4 separate regions of the Homo sapiens genome follow, and regions 1, 2 and 3 are each reported to be linked to region 4. Evidence: microRNA targets listed by miRTarBase, many of them from high-throughput screens and not tested one by one. Region 4 holds a microRNA gene; each other region holds the end of a gene's coding sequence.

What was found. Region 4 holds the annotated microRNA hsa-miR-3188 (AGAGGCUUUGUGCGGAUACGGGG, at 982-1,004, shown strand). A microRNA usually pairs through its seed, bases 2 to 8, with sites in the 3' UTR of a target mRNA and lowers its output. Matches are read on the target gene's strand: a 7mer-m8 pairs with bases 2 to 8, a 7mer-A1 pairs with bases 2 to 7 and ends in A, and an 8mer does both.
Region 1: miRTarBase lists SRCAP as a target of hsa-miR-3188. Seed matches in the 3' UTR shown: 7mer-m8 at 4,389-4,395.
Region 2: the mRNA of IMMP2L is a reported target of hsa-miR-3188. Seed matches in the 3' UTR shown: 7mer-m8 at 1,334-1,340.
Region 3: the mRNA of E2F2 is a reported target of hsa-miR-3188. Seed matches in the 3' UTR shown: 8mer at 407-414 and 7mer-m8 at 350-356.

Annotation. Positions count from the first base shown.
Region 1 is chr16:30,739,381-30,744,222 of GRCh38, reverse strand. It overlaps SRCAP (Snf2 related CREBBP activator protein), which reads right to left. Exons shown (of 34, transcript NM_006662.3): 34 at 2,814-4,842. The coding sequence ends at 4,490. It overlaps TMEM265 (transmembrane protein 265), which reads right to left and starts at 3,581. Exons shown (of 3, transcript NM_001256829.2): 1 at 3,516-3,581; 2 at 2,315-2,482; 3 at 1-441. The coding sequence starts at 2,479. The coding sequence ends at 280. RefSeq lists an enhancer at 2,094-3,293.
Region 2 is chr7:110,659,882-110,664,870 of GRCh38, reverse strand. IMMP2L (inner mitochondrial membrane peptidase subunit 2) reads left to right here. Exons shown (of 6, transcript NM_032549.4): 6 at 1,150-2,227. The coding sequence ends at 1,269. Among named protein-coding and RNA genes, the nearest start is that of LRRN3, 430 kb to the left of the region's middle.
Region 3 is chr1:23,507,244-23,511,982 of GRCh38, forward strand. It overlaps E2F2 (E2F transcription factor 2), which reads right to left. Exons shown (of 7, transcript NM_004091.4): 7 at 1-2,905. The coding sequence ends at 2,637. Among named protein-coding and RNA genes, the nearest start is that of E2F2, 22 kb to the right of the region's middle.
Region 4 is chr19:18,281,148-18,285,795 of GRCh38, forward strand. It overlaps MIR3188 (microRNA 3188), which reads left to right and starts at 930; the gene lies at 930-1,014. JUND (JunD proto-oncogene, AP-1 transcription factor subunit) reads right to left here and starts at 475. Exons shown (of 1, transcript NM_005354.6): 1 at 1-475. The coding sequence starts at 337. It overlaps LOC124904652 (a long non-coding RNA gene), which reads left to right and starts at 945. Exons shown (of 2, transcript XR_007067154.1): 1 at 945-1,983; 2 at 4,314-4,648. It also overlaps the pseudogene RPL39P38. RefSeq lists an enhancer at 1-460 and a silencer at 1-953.

The DNA.
Region 1 (4,842 bases), not on the chromosome of region 4:
TTCAACCCCTCCCGCTGGGTAGAGGCCCTAGGGTGGGCTAGGGTAGGGGAGATGGGGGTGGGGGGCCCTGAAAGAACAGAGCAGGCTGCCCTCCTCTCATCAGTCTCAGCTGCTGCCCTCCTTTTATAAAGGGCTAGAAGAGCTCTTCCAAAGCCCCTTGAGAGAGTCCCCATCCTTCCAACCAGGATCCTTCCAACCACTGCTGTCACAGGACCTTAGCAATGCCGCATTGCAGGATCCAGGAGGTCTCGGCTGGCTCTCAGCAGAGGCCATCCAGGGTCACTCAGCCTGAGCGATGGCGTAGGAGAGCAACCACAGCAGCAGGGGACCCAGAATGAGGACAGCAAGCCAGACAGCAAAGCTGGCCAGGATGAGTTTCCGGGCCCGGGCCCCCCAGCGCACTGCCTCCTCGGACCGGCCTGCTTTATGCCGCTCTTCCGCCTGTGGGGGCAGGTTCTTGGTTAGGTTCTCCCCCTGCTTCTGCCCCAAGGTGCCCATTTCCCCACTCCGCTCCCCCTTCCCTGTCACGGATCAAAATCTCACATCCAAACCCTCTACCTCCCTTTCCAGTTTCTGATTCTAACCTCTCATCTGCAAAATAAGGTACCCATCTCTGGGCCCTGCCTACTTCTCAGGGTGGCCATAGCTCACAAGATCGCCTATGGGAAAGTACTTTCCAATTCTGTTATTCCCCATTCTTTCCAACTATCCAAGATTGATTCAGAATTTGTAACTATTGGCAAGAAACAGTGAGGCTAGAGTAACTTCACTCATGCCCAAACACCACCTCATTCTCATAGCCCAATGGGCCTCATCTTTTCCATCTTTTTTTTTTCTTTTTTTGAGACAGTTTCACTCCTGTCACCCAGGCTGGAGTGCAGTGGTGCAATCTCACTGCAACCTCCTCCTCCCAGGTTCAAGCAATTCTCGTGTCTCAGCCTCCCAAATAGATGGGATAACAGGTACGTGCCACCACGCCCAGCTAATTTTGTATTTTTAGTAGAGACGGGGTTTCACCATGTTGGTCAGGCTGGTCTCGAACTCCTGACCTCAAGTGATCTGCCCACCTCGGCCTCCCAAAGTGCTGGGATTACAGGCGTGAGCCACTGCGCCCAGCCTCTTTGTTATCATTAAGGGCCCTTTTTAGGATTTTGCCCTAATGGAACCCAGGAGTTCTTACAGTTTCTGACTGTTAAAATATGTCTAGGGTTGAGAAGATTCCAGCATGAAGTTTAAGTTAGCCTGTGTAGCCTTTCCTAAAGGACATGTGCTGTTTTTTTTTGTTTTTTTTTTTTTTTGAGACAGAGTCTTGCTTTGTCACCAGGCTGGAGTGCAGTGGCATGATCTCAGCTCAATGCAACCTCCGACTCCGTGGTTCAAGCAATGATCCTGCCTCAGCCTCCCCAGTAGCTGGGATTACAGGCACGCACCATCACGCCCAGCTAATTTTTGTATTTTTAGTAGAGACGGGGTTTTACCATGTTGGCCTAGATGGTCTCGATCTCCTAACCTCGTGATCTGCCCACCTCGGCCTCCCAAAGTGCTGGGATTACAGGCCTAAGTCACCACGCCCGGCGGACATGTGCTGTTTCTAATAGGCTTTTTGAAATGGTGAAGCCCTCTCAAAAACCCAAGTGTCTTTCAGACTCCTAGAGATTGCGCTCATCACCGTTCAGCGGCCTCCAGCCTTGCCCCCTCCAATTCACCCTCGATGTAGGCCTTGAGAGTGGATCTTCCTAAAACTCAAATCTGACCATGTCACTTTCCCCTGCAGGAGCCATTCAATGCCTCCCCAGTACTTTCAAGATAAAGTCAAAACTCTTAAGCACAGAACTGGAGGCCCTTGGGAATCTGGGTCCTCTAGCTTCATCTCTCACTATTCCTCACTGGTCCAGTCATGCTCCACAGGCCTTTGTACACACTGCTCCTTTTATCTGGAATGCCCTTCCACACTTACTCACTCACCCTTTAAGATTAATCCTGTCACCTCTCCTAGGATGCCTTTCCAGTCACCTATTCTACCATATACACATATATAATTACATACATAGATCTTCCCTGGCTCCCACACTGTCCTGTGCTTCCTGTATTACGGTACTGATGAACTGCATTCTATTAATTACCCATTTTCACTGTCACCTCTTTCATTAGATTATGGGTCCTCTGACGACAAGGAACCCTGTCTTATTCTTATTTCTGGCACTAGGCCCAGAGCACTGATAGGTATTCAGTGACTGGTCAATGTAGATAGATCAGATACATGAAACCATTGCCTTATACCCACCCCCATTCCCATGGGAATTGCACTCCTCACCTTGATGGCAAACACCAGAGCCATGACTCCCAGGCAAGAGCAGCCACAGATAATGCTAGTAGCTGCCAAGCAGCGGAGGCGGAGCCAGCAGCAGCGGATGGGGGATGGAGGATGAGCAGCTTCCGTGTTGCCCAAGATCTCCACTGCCTTCTCCTCGTCCTCCATCACCTGTGGGCGATAGTCAAGGTACTTGTGAGCCCAACAACAGAGCCCTTGGCCTTGCTTGCTCAGACTCCACCCCTCTCAGAGCATTCTGTTCTCATGGCCTAGCCTGGCACTCAGGAATGTTGCCTTACTGGGGAATTCCTCTAGTGACTCACAGAGCAGGAGAGGAAATGTGTGGCTGGAATCCTTTTACCTAAGCTTGAGGTTCTGAGTCTTTGAAAGCAAGCCAGTGTAGACAAGGCATTATCTGTATTATTTAGTGTTTCAACAAGTGGGAAGAAGCCAAATGACAGGTGCACACCGAGAAGGAGGAAAAATACAAACTCTTGAAAGCTGCTATGAATCTGTTATTTTAATCTGTATTTCAAAGGACTCTACAATTCCCCCAAATTCCCAAGAGGCTGCCCCCTGAGTATTATAGATGTCAGAGAGCAGGACCCTAGGTACTGCAACCCGTTTCAAGCAAAGCAGCCATTTTACATGAAAACAGTTATGGGAATGGAGAAAGGTAAGGAAAATGTACCCAAGTAAGCCCTTTATTACCACTAAAACCAAACATCAGAAAGACTTTACTTCCCTAAGTCAGGGCTTCCTCTGCTATGCTGCCTCCCTGCCACCTCCTCTCTCCAATTTAACCCAGGCCACATAACACAATCAGACTAGTACACTGAGTCTAAATGACCTCATTACCACACAGAAACCTGCAAAATGATGCCCTACTTAATCATTTCTTGTCTCCCTACTTCTCAGGTCCTCTAGGCCCTGGCATCAAACCACCTTTCTACCCTTATCTCCAACCATTCCCCTACAACCCAGACAAAATGAAACCACCTTGGCTCCCTGAACCCAAGTAACGAAGGATAGGAAAGGTGAAAGGGGCGAGACAAGTAGAGAGCAAAGAATGATGTGTGCCAAGAAGCTGCAGGGAAGTAGATACAAAGAAATAACTCAGATGAGGTAAGCACAGAGTCAACAGGAGGACACAAGGAGGGCCCAGGGAGTGAACAGAGAATGTAAAAATGAACAGGGCTCTTACCTGGCTATAGGCCTTGAAGGACTCTGAGTTTCGGCTCCTGCCTCAGCTTTGGTTTGGCTTGGGTGGTGATGGAGCTGACTCAGGGCTCCAAGCCAAGCCCAGGGGTGGGGTTGAGTGGCCAGCCACCACGTGAAGAGCCCAGGGAGCTGGGAAGGGGTGTGGCTGACTCAAACCAGTTTGGCTAGATGAAGAGCAGGGGAGGGCCCAAGGGATGGAGCAACTGGAGCTAGGACGCCTGCCCTCTGGAAAAAGTTGTGAAAGGAAGCACCTGAGCAAGAGGGATAAAAGGGAAAGGTCTGAGGCATCAAAGAGCTCCGAGGAACGTCTAGGAACCGAGGGAAAAGAAATGAGAGGAAAAGGATATCTGTGACTTCAAACTGACTGGGGAAAGGCACCCTACCACATCAAATTCACCAATCTTCCCTCTTCTTGGGTAGATTTCTGCCTGGAACATATAGTCCTGGGCTAGAGATCAGGTGCTAGGATCTTTGCAAGAACAAGAGGGAGGAGAAAAACGATGCCCAAGTTCCCACCCAACCCTCCACCAGACCAGAAAATCAGAAGCCTCCTTACGCGGATGCTCATACAGAAACTAAGTTTATTATTTTTTCTTCTTAAAAAAAAAAAAAAAAGAAAAAAACCTCATTGTAGAGAAGCCCCTCCCCCTTCCCCTAAGGGTGGGGGGCTGTGTGAAAGACAGCTGGGGAATCAAGTACAAGGGGGTGGGGACAGAGACTATCTTGCCACCCTTAACACTGCCCAGCCACGTGGGGTGAAGGGGAAGGGGACTGTGATGATCCCCATTTCCATGACAACCAGTTGCCTACCCCCTACTTTGGTGGGAAGAAGGGAGAAGGCCCCTATGTCTCCCTGGAGGCTTTCCCCCTCAAGACTTCAAGTAGTGGTTAACAGAGTCAGGCCTGGTCATGGAGGGAGTGGCCACGGTGGAAAGCCTAGGTGGAGGGGCAGCCCACTCACGTCTTGGCCTTGCGGCCTCTGTGACTAACAGCAGGGCCAGCCAGGGAGGGAGGGGCGCTGCTGCGCAGGATGCGCTGGTCCCCTTGGTTGGTGGTCCCAACAAGCCGGCGGGGGCCAGGACGTCGGCGTGGGGTCCCATCCCCTTCCTCCTCCTCACCTGAGGCTTCAGCCTCAGACTCCTCTACTGAACCCTCAGGCCCCAGGGGACTTGGGGGCTGTAGGCGGCCCCGCTTTGCCAGCCCAGGACTCCCACCAACTGGGGCCCCTGCTCGTTTGCGAGGCAACTTCTCAGTCTCTAGTGGGGGGACTAGAGACCCTGGACGCAGCCGGGTCGAGCGCAGTTTTGGGG
Region 2 (4,989 bases), not on the chromosome of region 4:
TCTCTGTGGAAGTCCAGTTTATAGGAAAAACATTTGAAAATAAAATGGTAAATAAAGTGGACATATAGTATTACTTTATAACCGGCACTCAGTAAATATGTGCTAAATATGAGTGTATTTTGTAAGCTTCTAAATACCATTAAAATATCACCTGATAGTAACTATAACAACAACAATTTTTTTAAAAACACAGATTTCCAGGCCCTCCTTCAGACCTGTTGAAGGGTAATCTCTTAAGATAAGACCCTGATCTGCCTTTTAAACAAGTTTGCTATGTTCTCCTGTTCACCGAAATTGATGTCTTTAAGATTTAAGATGTTTAAGGGCTCCCTTCCTGTCTTTGGGCTCAGCCTTAAGTCCTCCCCCTCACCTCCTCTTCCATCCTCGCCAATCTCTGCTCTCCTCTGCTGATGGGGATTCTTTACCATCTGCCATGATCTGTATACTTTATTATTTTTCCTTGCTACCCATCCCACCTTGTTTGCTTTCTCTTTGTTTTCCACCTCTCTCCATGAGTACTAGATCCGTGTTACTCAGTGTACTCTCCATGGAGACAGCCCACCCAGTCTCACACCTAACTCCTGCTGCTCATCTAGTAGGTGGGACAATGTTTTTCACAAAATATATATATTTTTTAGGACTCTGTGATTTTTCCATAAAGAAAGTCTCTCTAGGATACCAATGACTCTGCGGGAAACTCTGAGAATATACGCCAGATTTATGCTTCCTGGGTCTATGCAAATAGGCTCTTGAGGCTAATGGTTAAGATGGTGGACTCGAGTCAAACTGCTTGGTTCTAAACACAGACTAACCGCTTGGTAGCTGTATGAATTTTGGCAAATTTTTTAACCTCTTTGAGCTTTGCTTTCTCATTTCTAAAAGGGAAATACTAACAGAACCTACTTCAAATGGTTTTTGTGAGGATTAAAGGAGTTTATATACAATAGCACCTAGAAAAATGCTATATAAGTGCTTACTGTATTTTTCTTTGTATTTCAATGGCTACAAAAGGTGTTTACTATTTTTTTTATTCATCATCACTTCTCCCTGGGATGTTAAACCTGGATTAAATTCTGCTTTCAAGCTATTAATAATGATTCTTATAAAATGATCTCTTTATTGCTTTCTTTCTGTTTCTCATGAATTAAGGTTTCCCTAGGACTTCTGCATGCCCATGCCACACATATCCTGTGGCCCCCAGAGCGCTGGCAGAAATTGGAATCTGTTCTTCCTCCAGAGCGCTTACCAGTACAGAGAGAAGAGGAATGACTGCATGAATCTACCTGAGTTGCTGGCATTGGGAGGCCAGTTACTGGAAAGGAATGGAAAAAAGAAGCCTCCAAAAGGGAAAAACTTCTGACAATATGATGCTGTGCGAGAAATATTTACAGCACATTAAAACGATCTGTATTATTAAATAAATAATTTTCAAATGTTAAACAGTATTAAATGGCACCTGATTTTGTGTTAAATTTTAGTTCCCTGTTGTTTAATGCCCCCAAAATATGCAGACCTTTGGGAATATAAAAATATTGCACCCACATGTCTTAATGGGGCTGAATTTCAGATTATTTGTTACATATACTTATTATATTGATTGTTGGGTTTTGATTTTGGTGCTTGCTGCTGAAATAAATTGAAAATTAATATTCAATAAAAATGATGTATTTGTCACTTGCTGTTAAGGTAGAACAAGAAGGAACACATATTATACACATAATGATGGGAATTACATTGTGATTTGTACTATCTACAAAGGAGTAACTGCCAGTTAGGAAGAACAGTAAACAGTGATGTTAAAATAAAACAATGATTTGCTAAGGTCCTGTTTTGAGTATTTAATTCTCATTGAGTACATCCATTAATGAGGAATTTCTTATCTCTTCTGAAAATAAGGAATCAAAGTAATGGAGAACCCATTCTGTCGACACTTGCATACAGTCAAGCCTTTCTTATTGGCCCTTTGTAATCCAACATTTCTGAGTGATCTCATGCCTATTCACAATGATGGGTAAACCCCTTTATCCGCATTTAGTCATACTATGTGTTTAAAAGTTCTGAGTGAAATAGAAGAAAAAACAGTCCAGATCAGCCACGTTTGATTTTCTTCCCCTAATTATTTCTCAGTATTCACGTCTGTAATACTGAAATCACCAATTGCAAAGTTACAGTAGAATCATAGAGTCTGTAATTTGTATGGATAATGGAATAAATTCCCTGCATCTAAGTCCATGTTTATGAAAGCTTCTTTTTCTCCCATTGGTTAGAGGTTTGTGTAAATTATTATTAGCATAATCATATTCAACAAATATTAATGAGCACTTACATACTAATGTTGGACAGAATTTTTTTTAAAACAGATCTGCTTAAAATTTTTCTGTGGCTCTTCATTGCCCTTCTCAATTCTTCAGTTCCATTTTCTCTTTTCCCCAACTCGAACTTCATACCCTGGCTTTTAACTGCAGTTTACCAAATACTGCTATTTCAAAGCTTGTAATTTTTTTCTTTCTTGGCAAAGTGCATCCCTTGGAATTATGTGTAAAATGTTTAGTACATAAGGGTATTGACTCTTTACTTGCTGGAACACAGGAGGGTCTATGGGTCATATAGGAGGGGATTGGGAGTACTGAGGGGAGGTAGAGTAAAGAACAAATAGACAGGTGCTGGTAGTGACTGCTATTTACCACTGGTATAGAAGAGTTCAATATTTTAACAGTTTACCCCATTGGCTATCAGCCTTGCTACCTTATTGACTACCCGTGCCATTGTTACTCGAACTATTCATTCAAGATTGTATATCTTTGGAGGGAAGGTAAATGCTCTTTCTATTCAATTTTCTATTCACTAGCCATCCAGCACATCACCAGCAGAGTTAATGCCTAATGCTTGTTGAACAGCTCAGCTGACTAGTTACTTCCTCAGGAATACATCCCCAGGCAAAGTCACTGCTCTACCTGGTATATACCTTCATTAATGTATCACTCTGCATGTTAATGATTCGTGTACATACTTTCTCCCCTACTAGACTGTGAACTAGTAGTCTAATCTAGAGCAGGGTTTATCTTGCTCAACTTGGTCATACGATTGCTCATAATTGACAATAAAATCCTGTCCAATCAATGTATGAATCCTAGGCACTGTGTTAAGGACAGGAAAATCAAAGTAGATAAAACAAAGGTTCTCATAGTCGACTGGTGGGGGCAGGAGGAACTGTAAAGAGGCAAAGAGTTAACATACAATTCCGCAGTAGGTATAGAGCATGGAATAGGTGCAATGGGAGCAGAAAGGGCTGTAAATCTGATTGTGCCTGGGGAAATAGGGATGGGAGAAACCACCACAGGAGGGGTGCCACGGGCTGAGCCTTCTAGGATGAATGGAGTTCCCCTCCTGTGAATTATAAATTTAATCTGTATAAACGATTTCAGTTACTTAAATAGTTTCCTCTCAAACATTACTGCTAGTTTACTGTTCAGGGTGTAGTGTGTGTATTATGTTTTATACATTTAATTTGTAAAATGTGAAATAATGATTGTACCTCAGGAATATTGAGATTTGTAATTAATTTTTTTTCACTTTTTACAACAGTCATTTCAAACAATTTTACCAAGTAACTTATAAAAATGTGTTATATATCGGATGTTCCAAGATGGCCAAATAAGAACAGTTGCAGTCTACAGCTCCCAGCATGAGCAATGCAGAAGATGGGTGATTTCTGCATTTCCAACTGAGGTACTGGGTTTCTCTCACTGGGACTTGTCGGACAGTGGGTGCAGCCAACAGAGCAGGGCGGGCATCGCCTCACCCAGGAAGTGCAAGGAGTCAGGGAATTCCCTTTCCTAGCCAAGGGAAGCCATGACAGATGATACCTGGAAAATCGGGACACTCCCACCCTAATACTACGCTTTTCCAATGGTCTTAGCAAATGGCACACCAGGAGATTATATCCTGCGCCTGGCTCACAGGGTCCCATGCCCACAGAGCCTCGCTCACTGCTAGCATGGCAGTCTGAGATCGAACTGCAAGGTGGCAGCAAGGCTGGGGGAGGGGCGTCCACAATTGCTGAGGCTTGAGTAGGCAAACAAAGCAGCTGGGAAGCTCGAACTGGGTGGAGCCCACTGCAGCTCAAGGAGGCCTGCCTGCCTCTGTAGACTCCACATCTGGGGGCAGGGCATAGCTGAACAACAGGCAGCAAAAACTTCTGCTGGCTTAAACATCCCTATCTGACAGCTTTGAAGAGAGTAGTGGTTCTCCAAGCACAGAGGTTGAGATCTGAGAACGGACAGACTGCCTCCTCAAATGGGTCCCTGACCTCCGAGGAGCCTAACTGGGAGACACCTCCCAGTAGGGGCCGACTGACACCTCAAACAGCTGGGAGCCCCTCTGAGATGAAGCTTCCAGAGGAAGGATCAGGCAGCAACATTTGCCGTTCTGCAATATTTGCTGTTCTATAGCCTCCACTGGCGATACCCAGGCAAACAGGGTCTGGAGTGGACTTCCAGTGAACTCCAACAGACCTGTAGCTCACGGTCCTGACTGTTAGAAGGAAAACTAATAAACAGAAAGGAAATCCACACCAAAACCCCATCTGCACATCACCATCATCAAAGACCAAAGGTAGATAAAACCAAAAAGATGGGGAGAAACCAGAGCAGAAAAGCTGAAAATTCTAAAAATCAGAGCAGCTCTTCTCCTCCAAAGGAACACAGCTCCTCGCCAGCAATGGAACAAAGCTGGATGGAGAATGACTTTGATGAGTTGAGAGAAGAAAGCTTCAGACGATTGGTAATAACAAACTTCTCCAAGCTAAAGGAGGATGTTCAAACCCATCGCAAAGAAGCTAAAAACCTTGAAAAAAGATTAGACAGATGGCTAACTAGAATAAACAGTGTAGAGAAGACCTTAAATGACCGGATGGAGCTGAAAACCATGGCACGAGAAATAACTTAATGCATGCACAAGCTTCAGTAGCCAATTTGATCAAGTGGAAAA
Region 3 (4,739 bases), not on the chromosome of region 4:
CTGGTGGCTCGTGCCTGTCATCTCAACACTTTGGGAGGCCGAGGTGGTGGATCACTTGAGGTCAGGAGTTCAAGACCAGCCTGACTAACATGGCAAAACCCCGTCTCGACCAAAAATACAAAATTAGCCGGGCGTGGTGGTGCATGTCTATAGTCCCAGCTACTCTGGAGGCTGAGGCAGAAGAATCGCTTGAACCTGGGAGGCAGAGGTTGCAGTGAGCCGAGATCAGGCCACTGCACTCCAGCCTGGGCAACAGAGCGAGACTCCATCTCAAAAAAAAAAAAAAAGAAGAAAAAAAGAAAAGAAAATACCACTCAAAATGTGTCCTGAAGCACTCTGTGGAAGTCGGGAGGCTTCAAGTGTCACTGGCAAGACGGGGGCATGAGCTTGTGTCCTGCACTGAATCTGAGGCTTAGCCTGGGAGGTCTAGCCCCTTGGCCAGGCAAGGTGTGAAAGGGACAGTAGAGGGGGACAGAGGCAGCTGCTGAGCACACGGGGCACAAGCCTGAAGGCAGCTCCCCTGACCAGCCATATGGAGAGGCCTCTAGGGCATGAGCTTACATTCCAGACTTCAGTATTAAACTCATTCCCAATGGGTCCTGCAGGCCCCTTCTTCCTTTTCTCTGATGTAATTCTTGGGGAAAGCTCCAGAGCCCAAGGAATGGGAGTCAAACACCTCTGACTTCAGAGATGGCACATGGCTAAATGGCAGCCCAGTGGAGACCTCAGAGCAGCCCACTCACCACAAACGAGATCCTACACAGGGTCCCTGAGCATGCTGGACTTTAAGACGGGCGTCTGATAAGACCCTTGTGAGTATTTGGGTAGGAGACCAAAAGCATTTCTGCAAAGGGTACACAATTAGCCCTGCTTATAGAGTGGGGGCAGCTGTGACCCGCTGACCACTCCTGGGAGGGGGCTAACTTGGGGGCCCAGGAATTTGAGCAAATGATGAGGCACAATTGTCCCCAGCTGGGCATTAGATCACATTGGGCCCCACCCTGAAATAATCCCTCGTCTCAAACTTCAGACATCAGTCAGTCAGCTCAGGAGCCATCCAACAAAACCAACTTCATATTTTAAACCAGCTTAATGCTACAAACTTTTCTAAAAAGTGCTGTCCAGCTGAGCCTCTGAGAAAACCTAGCTCCCTGAGGGGTGGATGGCAGGCCTCTCAGACCAACCCCTGAGCCTCTCTCCAGAAGTCATAGCCTTGGTTCAGCCCAGAGCACCCACATCCCAGGGTGGGTGGGGGAGAAGAGCAGCTGAGCTGAAGGGACAATGTGGGATGATCAAGCCTCTGGGGGAACAGGCTGAAGCCAAAAGACCCCCTCAGGACCCCAGGCCTGCAGAGGTAACATGAGTTCCTCTCCCCATTAGCTGTGAAGGCCTGGTCTGCCATGAAGACCTCTCTCTGTCACCCCTTCAGTATACCTGGGAAAAAAGGAGTGAACAAGTCACCAAGCCCCAGTCACCTCTGTCCTTGGGGTCTGAGTGAGCTCTGAGGGGTGGAGTCCTTAATGAACCATCCCCTTCAATAACATGGTGAAAAAATTCCTCCCAGGGAAGCAGAGAATGATGCCAGTGCCACATGGGGGGCAGAGGGGATGCTTTTGGCAGTTTTTTGTTTTAATCTGACCCTTCTTTACAGTGGGGCTGCCTCTGCCTACCAAGTCCTTGGTGCAAAATGGCTCCTGGACCAGCGCAAGGCAGAAACTCTGAGGAAAAGTGCCCGCCACAGCCATGACAGCTGCCCCCATGCTCCTGTCTGTTTTCCACGGGAGCTTGTCTCTGCTGGACCATTTTTACATCTCAAGGGGAGAGGTAAGGACTTCCTCAGGAAAGGGGTCTCCTGAGCAGGTGGCTCCTGTTTCCACAGGAGCCTCAGTGCTACCTGCCCTAGGATGGCTCCCTGGGACCATCTCTGGGACAGAGGCGACCAGGAAGCCAAGACCGGCAGCTCAGCTGGAGATGTGAGGCCAAGAACAGGGGAAGAGGCAAAAGGGCCCACAGCTGCCGTTTACTAGAACCATGAGGCCTAAGTGCAATTAGCATTCTAGCAGACTGGACAGCCCCTCAGAGTCCCAGCCCCCACCACAGTGGGGAAACCAAGGATGTAGCCTGGGCCCCTCCCTTGGAAACCCAGACCTGCCCTGGAACATGGACAGTGATGGGCCTGTCTGCAGAGGTCTCACTAAAAACTAGAACAACCTCCCTGCTAAAACTCAGGGAGGACAAACAAACAACTCAACCTGAAATAAATACAAAGGCATTATGTGCTTCTTGGTACGTCGAGGGTCCTAATTACCCCTCAAAAGGAGGTAGCAGGGCCTTTCCCTGGACTTGGCCACCTCACCTGCAGCCTTCTTGTGAGAGGTCAGAAGTCAGAAGACTGGATGGGCCTCCCTAGGCCCAGCTTCCATTAGGAAGGTGAGGACCACCCCTTATCCACTCCTCACCCGTACCATTCATATCTCCCCACACAGCTTCTGCCGGCTGGGGCAGGAAAGGCGAGGAGACCCCATGCCCTGAGGGCAGCACCTAGTGTCCAATGTCCCTGTGCAGGCAGAGGGGCTGTCAGCCTGTCTGTGAGGAGGTAGAGTCGGGGGCAGGCTGCTGGGGGCAGGCAGGGCCACTCAATTAATCAACAGGTCCCCAAGGTCGTAGGAGTCGAAGAGATCGCTGATGCCCTCACCCGCCTCCAAGCCCCACAGGTAGTCGTCCTGGTCCAAGGATGGGGAGAAGCTGATCAGAGGGGAGCTGCACGCCAGGGTCGGGGACAGGAACTGGTCCTCAGTCTGCTGCAGGAGTGGGTGCGGCAGCTCCAGCAGGCTGTCAGTAGCCTCCAAGGGGACCAGGGATGGAGGCGGTGGGGCCTGCTGGGGGGTTGGCGCTGGTGCTGGCACTGGAGACAAACAGACAAAGGTTACGCCTGGCCCTAGCATCCAACTCCTCAGCACGCGAGGACAGACTTCCGGTTCTCTGGATGACTGCACCCTTCTTCTCTCTCCTTAGCCTGGGTGGACTGTCGTGCTCTCAAAATCCACCTTCCAGAGTCTACACCCAACCCTACAACTTTTCATGTATTTTTTATTTTTTTGAGACCGGGTCTCACTCTATCACCCAGGCTAGAGTGCAGTGTTGTGATCTTGGTTCACTGCAACCTCTGCCTCCCAGGTTCAAGCGATTCTCCCACCTGAGCCTCCCGAGTAGCTGGACTACAGGCATGCACCACCACACCCAGCTAATTTGTGTATTTTTAGTAGAGATGGGGTTTCACCATGTTGGCCAGGCTGGTCTCGAACTCCTGACCTCAAGTGATCGGCCTTCCAAAGTGTTGGGATTACAGGCCTGAGCCACTGTGCCCGGCCAAAAAGGAAAGAAATTCTGACACATGCTACAACATAGATGAACCCTGAGGACATTAAACTATGTGAAATAAGCCAATCACAAAAAAACAAATACTGTGTGATTCCACTTACATTAGATACTTAGTCAAAATCGCAGGGACAGAGAGTAGAAGGGTGGTTGTCAGGGGCTGGGCAGAGAGGGGAATGGGGAATAGGTACAGAGTTTCAGTTTTACAAGGTGAAAGGAGTTATGGAGATGAATGGTGATGGTTACACAACATTATGAATGTATTAATTACCACTGAACTGTACATTTAAAAATAGTTATGATGGTAAATTTTTGTTATGTTGCCTCTACTCTCCACCACACACAACTATACCTGACCTCATCACCCTCTCCAATTACTGGCCCATTTTTCTGCTCCTTTGCACAGTAAACTTTCTCCAGAGTAGCCTCAGCTTGTCTCCACTTCCCTATTACTATTCTCTCTTCAACTCACTCCAGTCTGGGGTCTCTCCCCACCATGTCCCTGAGCCAGTGACATCCATGCTGCTAAACCCAATGGTCATTTCTCTGGCTTCATCTTATTTGACCTTTCAGTAGCCATTCTCCAGCACTCTATGCTCATTTCTTTCTCGCCGCCTTCTTTTTTTTTTTTTGAAACAGGGTCTTGCCCAAGCTAGAGTACAGAGTGCAGTAGGGTGAACACGGCTCACTGCAGCCTCAACCTTCTGGGCTCAAGCAATCCTCTCGCCTCAGCCTCCTGAGTAGCTGGGACCACTGGTGCGTGCCACCATGCCCATCCAATTTTTAAACTTTTTTGTAGAGACAGGGTCTCACTCTGTTGCCCAGGCTGGTCTCGAACTCCCAGGCTCGAGCAATCCTCCTGCCTCAGCCTCCCAAAGTGCTGGGATTACAGACATGAGCCACCACACCCAACCTGCTCATTTCCACTTAGATGTTAAGACGGTGATTTCCCATACAGGGACATGCAATGAAGCACTGGAAATTGCCTGCCACATATATCCTGATGCTCAGAATCCCCCACATTGCAGTCACTCCTTAAGCCCCAGCCAAGTATTATTCTGAAGATACAACTGCGCTGGGATGCTAGGCTGCCTGTTGAGACTGGTGGTGCACCCATAGGCATGTGATTTCACATTTTATTTATTTATTTAATTTATTTTGAGATGGAGTCTTGCTCTGGACTTCACGTTTTAGAGCATCCATTTTCTCCCCTCTGCATGGGGCAGCATAGCACTACCTACCTCAAAGGGTTGCTCAGAGGACCGCATGGTAAGTGCATATGAAGCACTGGTTTGGCCTGGTGCGGTGGCTCATGCCTATAATACCAGCACTTTGGGAGGGCGAGGCAGGCAGATCACCTG
Region 4 (4,648 bases):
GCCCGTTGGACTGGATGATGAGGCGCTCGAGCTCGGGGGAGGCCAGCTTCAGCAGCCCCAGGTCGGGAGAGGCGAGCAGGCCGTCGGGGGGTGCCGCGCTGGGGGCGCCGTCGGCGCGCAGGGGGGTAGGAGGCGGCGCGGCCGCAGGCTTGAGCGCTGCCGCCACCTGCTCACTCAGGCTCAGCGTCAGCGCGTCCTTCTTCATCATGCTGCCGGCCGCGGCCGTCGGGGGCGCCCCGGGGAACAAGCGGCCCGGGGACGCGAAGCTGCCGCCGCTGCCACTGGCGCCGCCGCCCAGGCCGCTCAGCGCCTCATCGCCGTAGAAGGGTGTTTCCATCCTCCGCCTCCCCCGCCGCGCCGGCCCGGGGGGGAGTGGCCGCGGCCTCCCGGGGGGCCCGCGCCCCCCCGTCCGCTCGGCCCTGCGCCCGCCCCGGCCGCGGCCGCAGCGCCCGGCCCTCCACTGGCGGCGGCTCCTGCGCCGCGCCACTTGTGCGCCCTCTTATAGCCTCGGCTCGGCGCGATGAGCTCACCGCCCCCGTTCGCCATTGGGTGCGGGTGACGTCGCTCATTTGCATGGAGGGGCGGGGCCAAGCCGCCGACGCCCGCCCGGCCGCCGTTGCCCCGGCGACGCGCGGTAAACGCCACAACAGCGCGCTGCCTTGTGGGTTGACGTCATGGGGGCGGCCGCGCGCCCGGGCCGGGTCACCCCGCCCCGGGACCGCTGTGTACGACCGATCTCCCCGGCGCCGCCTCCGCCAAGGCACGTCCCGGGTGGCGTGATGGGCCCGGGCCACCAGGCGCCCGCCCGCCCCGAGGCCCCGCCCCGTGTCCGCGCGTGGGGCCCCGGCCGGGCGGGGGCGGGGGCGGGGGCGGTGCCGGCCTCCGGGGACTGGAGGGGGATGGGGTCCCGCATGGCTAAATAACTCCTTGGCGCCTCCTGCTCTGCTGTGCCGCCAGGGCCTCCCCTAGCGCGCCTTCTGGAGAGGCTTTGTGCGGATACGGGGCTGGAGGCCTGGTGGGGCTGTGTCCGGGGGCTCGCCGGGGGTGTGGGGAGGTCTGCGTTCCTCACCCTCCCTCCTTCCTTCCCTCCCTCCCTCCACCCCGCGTGTGATTGCTCAGGAAGAGACGGGAGGGGAGAGGAGGGTCGCCAGAAGTTGCTGAAAGCGCTTGGATCCTGATCATTTTCACTGAGTGCGTTCTAGAACCAGGAGTCCTACTTCCTGCCTTTACAGATGGGAAACTGGGCTCAGAGAGGTGGAGTGACCATCCCCCGAGAGTTAGCTAGGAGTCACAGCAGGGCCCGGGCTGTGACTAGGCCTGAGCTCTTGTCCACCCTTAGAACCCTAGAACCTGGGAGTCCAGGCCCCTGCGCAGCCCCTTCCTTCCGCCGCCCACGTTTTAACCCCAGGTCTGCCAGGGCTGTGATGTCCTGGGCGAGGGTGCCCAACTCCAGGGGCTGGGCTGATGAGGCAGGAATGCCGGGTATAATTATTACATGCTTGTTACCACTATCATGGCTGTTAGGGCTTAATGAGCCACTATTAAGACTGGCTGGGAAGGGGGTGTGAGGGAGGAGAGATGGACCCACCCCACCAATACTCACAAGGGATCCTTAGGACATCTGGATCTGACCTACAGCCTCTGCATGCACCCCTCCAGCTCCCCACCTCTGTCTGAATGGAGCCCACACCCTCCTTTCCCTGACCTCCTTCCCCTCACTCTCTCTGATCCTTGGCCTCCCAGTTGCAGGACTAATCGTACCTCTGGGCCTTTGCACGTGCTATGCTCTCTGCTTGGTACTCCCTTCCCCCAGTGCAAAGATGTGTCTTCAGGAAGTGCCCCACCCTCAGACTTTACTCCTTTATTGTAGCCTCTGAATCTGCCAGAATGATGGAGTGGACCATAGTCCCTGAAGGTCAGGGACATTGCCTATGCTGAGCCTGCTGACAGGGCCTCGCATAGAATGGATGCTCAGTATTAAAGGTGAATGCGGGGCTGGGTGTGGTGGCTCATGCCTGTAATCCCAGCACTTTGGGAGGCCGAGGCAGGCAGATCACTTGAGGTCAGCAGTTCAAGACCAGACTGGCCGAAATACAAAAATACAAAAAAAAAAAAAAATACGAAAATTAACCGGGTGTGGTGGTGTGCACCTGTAATCCCAGCTACTCAGGAGGCTGAGACATGAGAATCGCTTGAACCCGGGAGGCAGAGGTTGCAGTGAGCTGAGATTGTGCCACTGCACTCCAGCCTGGGAGACAGAGTGAGACTCCAGTCTCAAAAAAAAATAAAAAATAAAGGTGAATGCAACAAAAGGTTGCTTGTGTGGGTGGTCTCTAGCCTCAGTTTGTCTGCCTGGCCAGTGGGCATGCGTTACTCCTTTTCTATCCTCCTTACTCACCTGGCTCTGCCCCCAACTGGGGCATGAAGGCCATAAGGGAGGCTGTCCTCATCACCAAGAGAGGTGGCCTGTCGGCCACACGCGGTGACTCCTGCCTGTAATCCCAGCACTTTGGAAGTCTGAGGCAGGCATTTGAGGTCAGGAGTTTGAGACCAGCCTGACCATCATGGTGAAACCCCATCTCTATTGAAAATAAAAATTAGGCTGGGCGCAGAGGCTCACGCCTGTCATCCCAGCACTTTAGGAGGCCAAGGCAGGCTGATCACGAGGTCAGGAGATCAAGACCATCCTGGTTAACACGGTGAAACCCTGTCTCTACTGAAAAATAAAAAAAAAAATTAGCCGGGCATGGTGGCGGGCGCCTGTAGTCCCCAGCTACTCGGGAGGCTGAGGCAGGAGAATGGCATGAACCCGGGAGGCAGAGCTTGCAGTGAGCCGAGATCACACCACTACACTCCAGCCTGGGCAACAGAGCGAGACTCCGTCTCAAAAAAAAAAAAGAAAAAAGAAAAGAAAAAAAAATTAGCCAGGTGTGGTGGCAGGTGCCTGTAATCCCAGCTAGTCGGGAGGCTGAGGCAGGAGAATCGCTTGAACCCGGGAGGTGGAGGTTGCAGTGAGCCGAGATTGCGCCATTGCACTCCAGCCTGGGCTACAGAGTGAGACACTGTCTCAAAAAAAAAAAAGAAGAAAAAAAAAATAGGCTGGGCGAGGTGGCTCACACCTGTAATAAGCACTTTGGGAGGCTGAGGCGGGCAAGTCATCTGAGGTCAGGAGTTCGAGACCAGCCTGGCCAATATGGCAAAACCCTGTCTCTACTAAAAATACAAAAATTAGCCAGGCATGGGGAGCGCACCGGTAATCCCAGCTGCTCTGGAGAAAGGAGAATCACTTGAACCCAGGAGATGGAGGTTGCAGTGAGCTGAAATCATGCCACTACACTCCAGCCTGGGCAACAGGGCAAGACTCCATCTTAAAAATAATAATAATAATAATAATAATAATAATAATAATAATAATAAAGACCTGGCCTGGCAGGCCTGGGATTCAAATTGCCAGGGCAGGGAACTGGAGGTGTGGGTTTGTTTTGTCTCTAGATTGGTTAGGAAGGTGTCTGTCTGCCTATTGGAGTGTGTGTCTGTGTGTGCACCTGTGTCTGTCTGTATTCGTGTTGTATAGACAGACGCAGGTACACACAGATACATACTCAGATCCATGGGTCTCTGTGCTCTCTAGCCCAGGTTCTATCCTGGACAAAGAGATCCCTAGTGGGACAAGATCCAGCCCGCAGACCTGTAGCCAGCCCTGCCCTGGGAACCCCTCTCTGGGTCCCGTGCAGTGGGGCCAGAGTGGAGGAGACGGGGTCATGCCTCTCCCTGAGGCAGGAGGTGAGTGGGCGGCCTACAGAGGCCCTGCCCTGAACTTGGGCCTCAGCCTTGGCAGCTGGGGAGATGGTCTGGTGAATGGTAGGCTGAGACAGCCTGAGCTGAGTGGAGCACTTTCCTGCAGGCAGGCAGGTGAGATACAGAGGCCTGTCAACCTCTCTGAGCCTCAGCTTTTCCTTCATGAAAATTGAGCAAATAAACCTACCTACTTTGTGGAGTATCGCGATTTTTTTTTTTGAAATGAAAGGCCTCACATATTTATTACTGAACCCAGCCAACCCACACGTTCATAACAGATTCAGAGAGGAAAACACGTCGAACTCTCCAGATAGTGGTGACACTTTCAGTTTGATATGCTAACGTGATCGTGACCTTCAGACAGCATAAATATGTGTGCCATCTCATGTGCAATTCCTTATAGACCCAGCTTGGTTCTTCTCCAGTGTCCTTTTGGAGTTGTACCTGATTTTATTTCCAGTTTTCATCCAAATCCACTGGGGAATGGGACGATTTTGCTTTTGTTTCTTGTCCAGGAATCGCTTAATCCTGAAAGTCTTGTAGGAAGATATGGCGAGAAGTGGAGTCAAGAACACACCACGATGGTGCAGAAAGGAAAAGCATTGCGATTTTTATTGGATTTGAAGAAATAGTAAGGGGTCAGGCTGGGTGTGGTGGCGCACGCCTGTAATCTCAGCACTTTGGGAGGCTGAGGCAGGTGGATCACGAGGTCAGGCGTTCGAGACCAGCCTGGCCAACATAGTGAAACCTTGTCTCTACTAAAAATACAAAAATTCTCCCGGTGTGGTGGCGCACGCCTTTAGTCCCAGCTACTTGGGAGGCTGAGGCAGGAGAATCACTTGAACCCAGG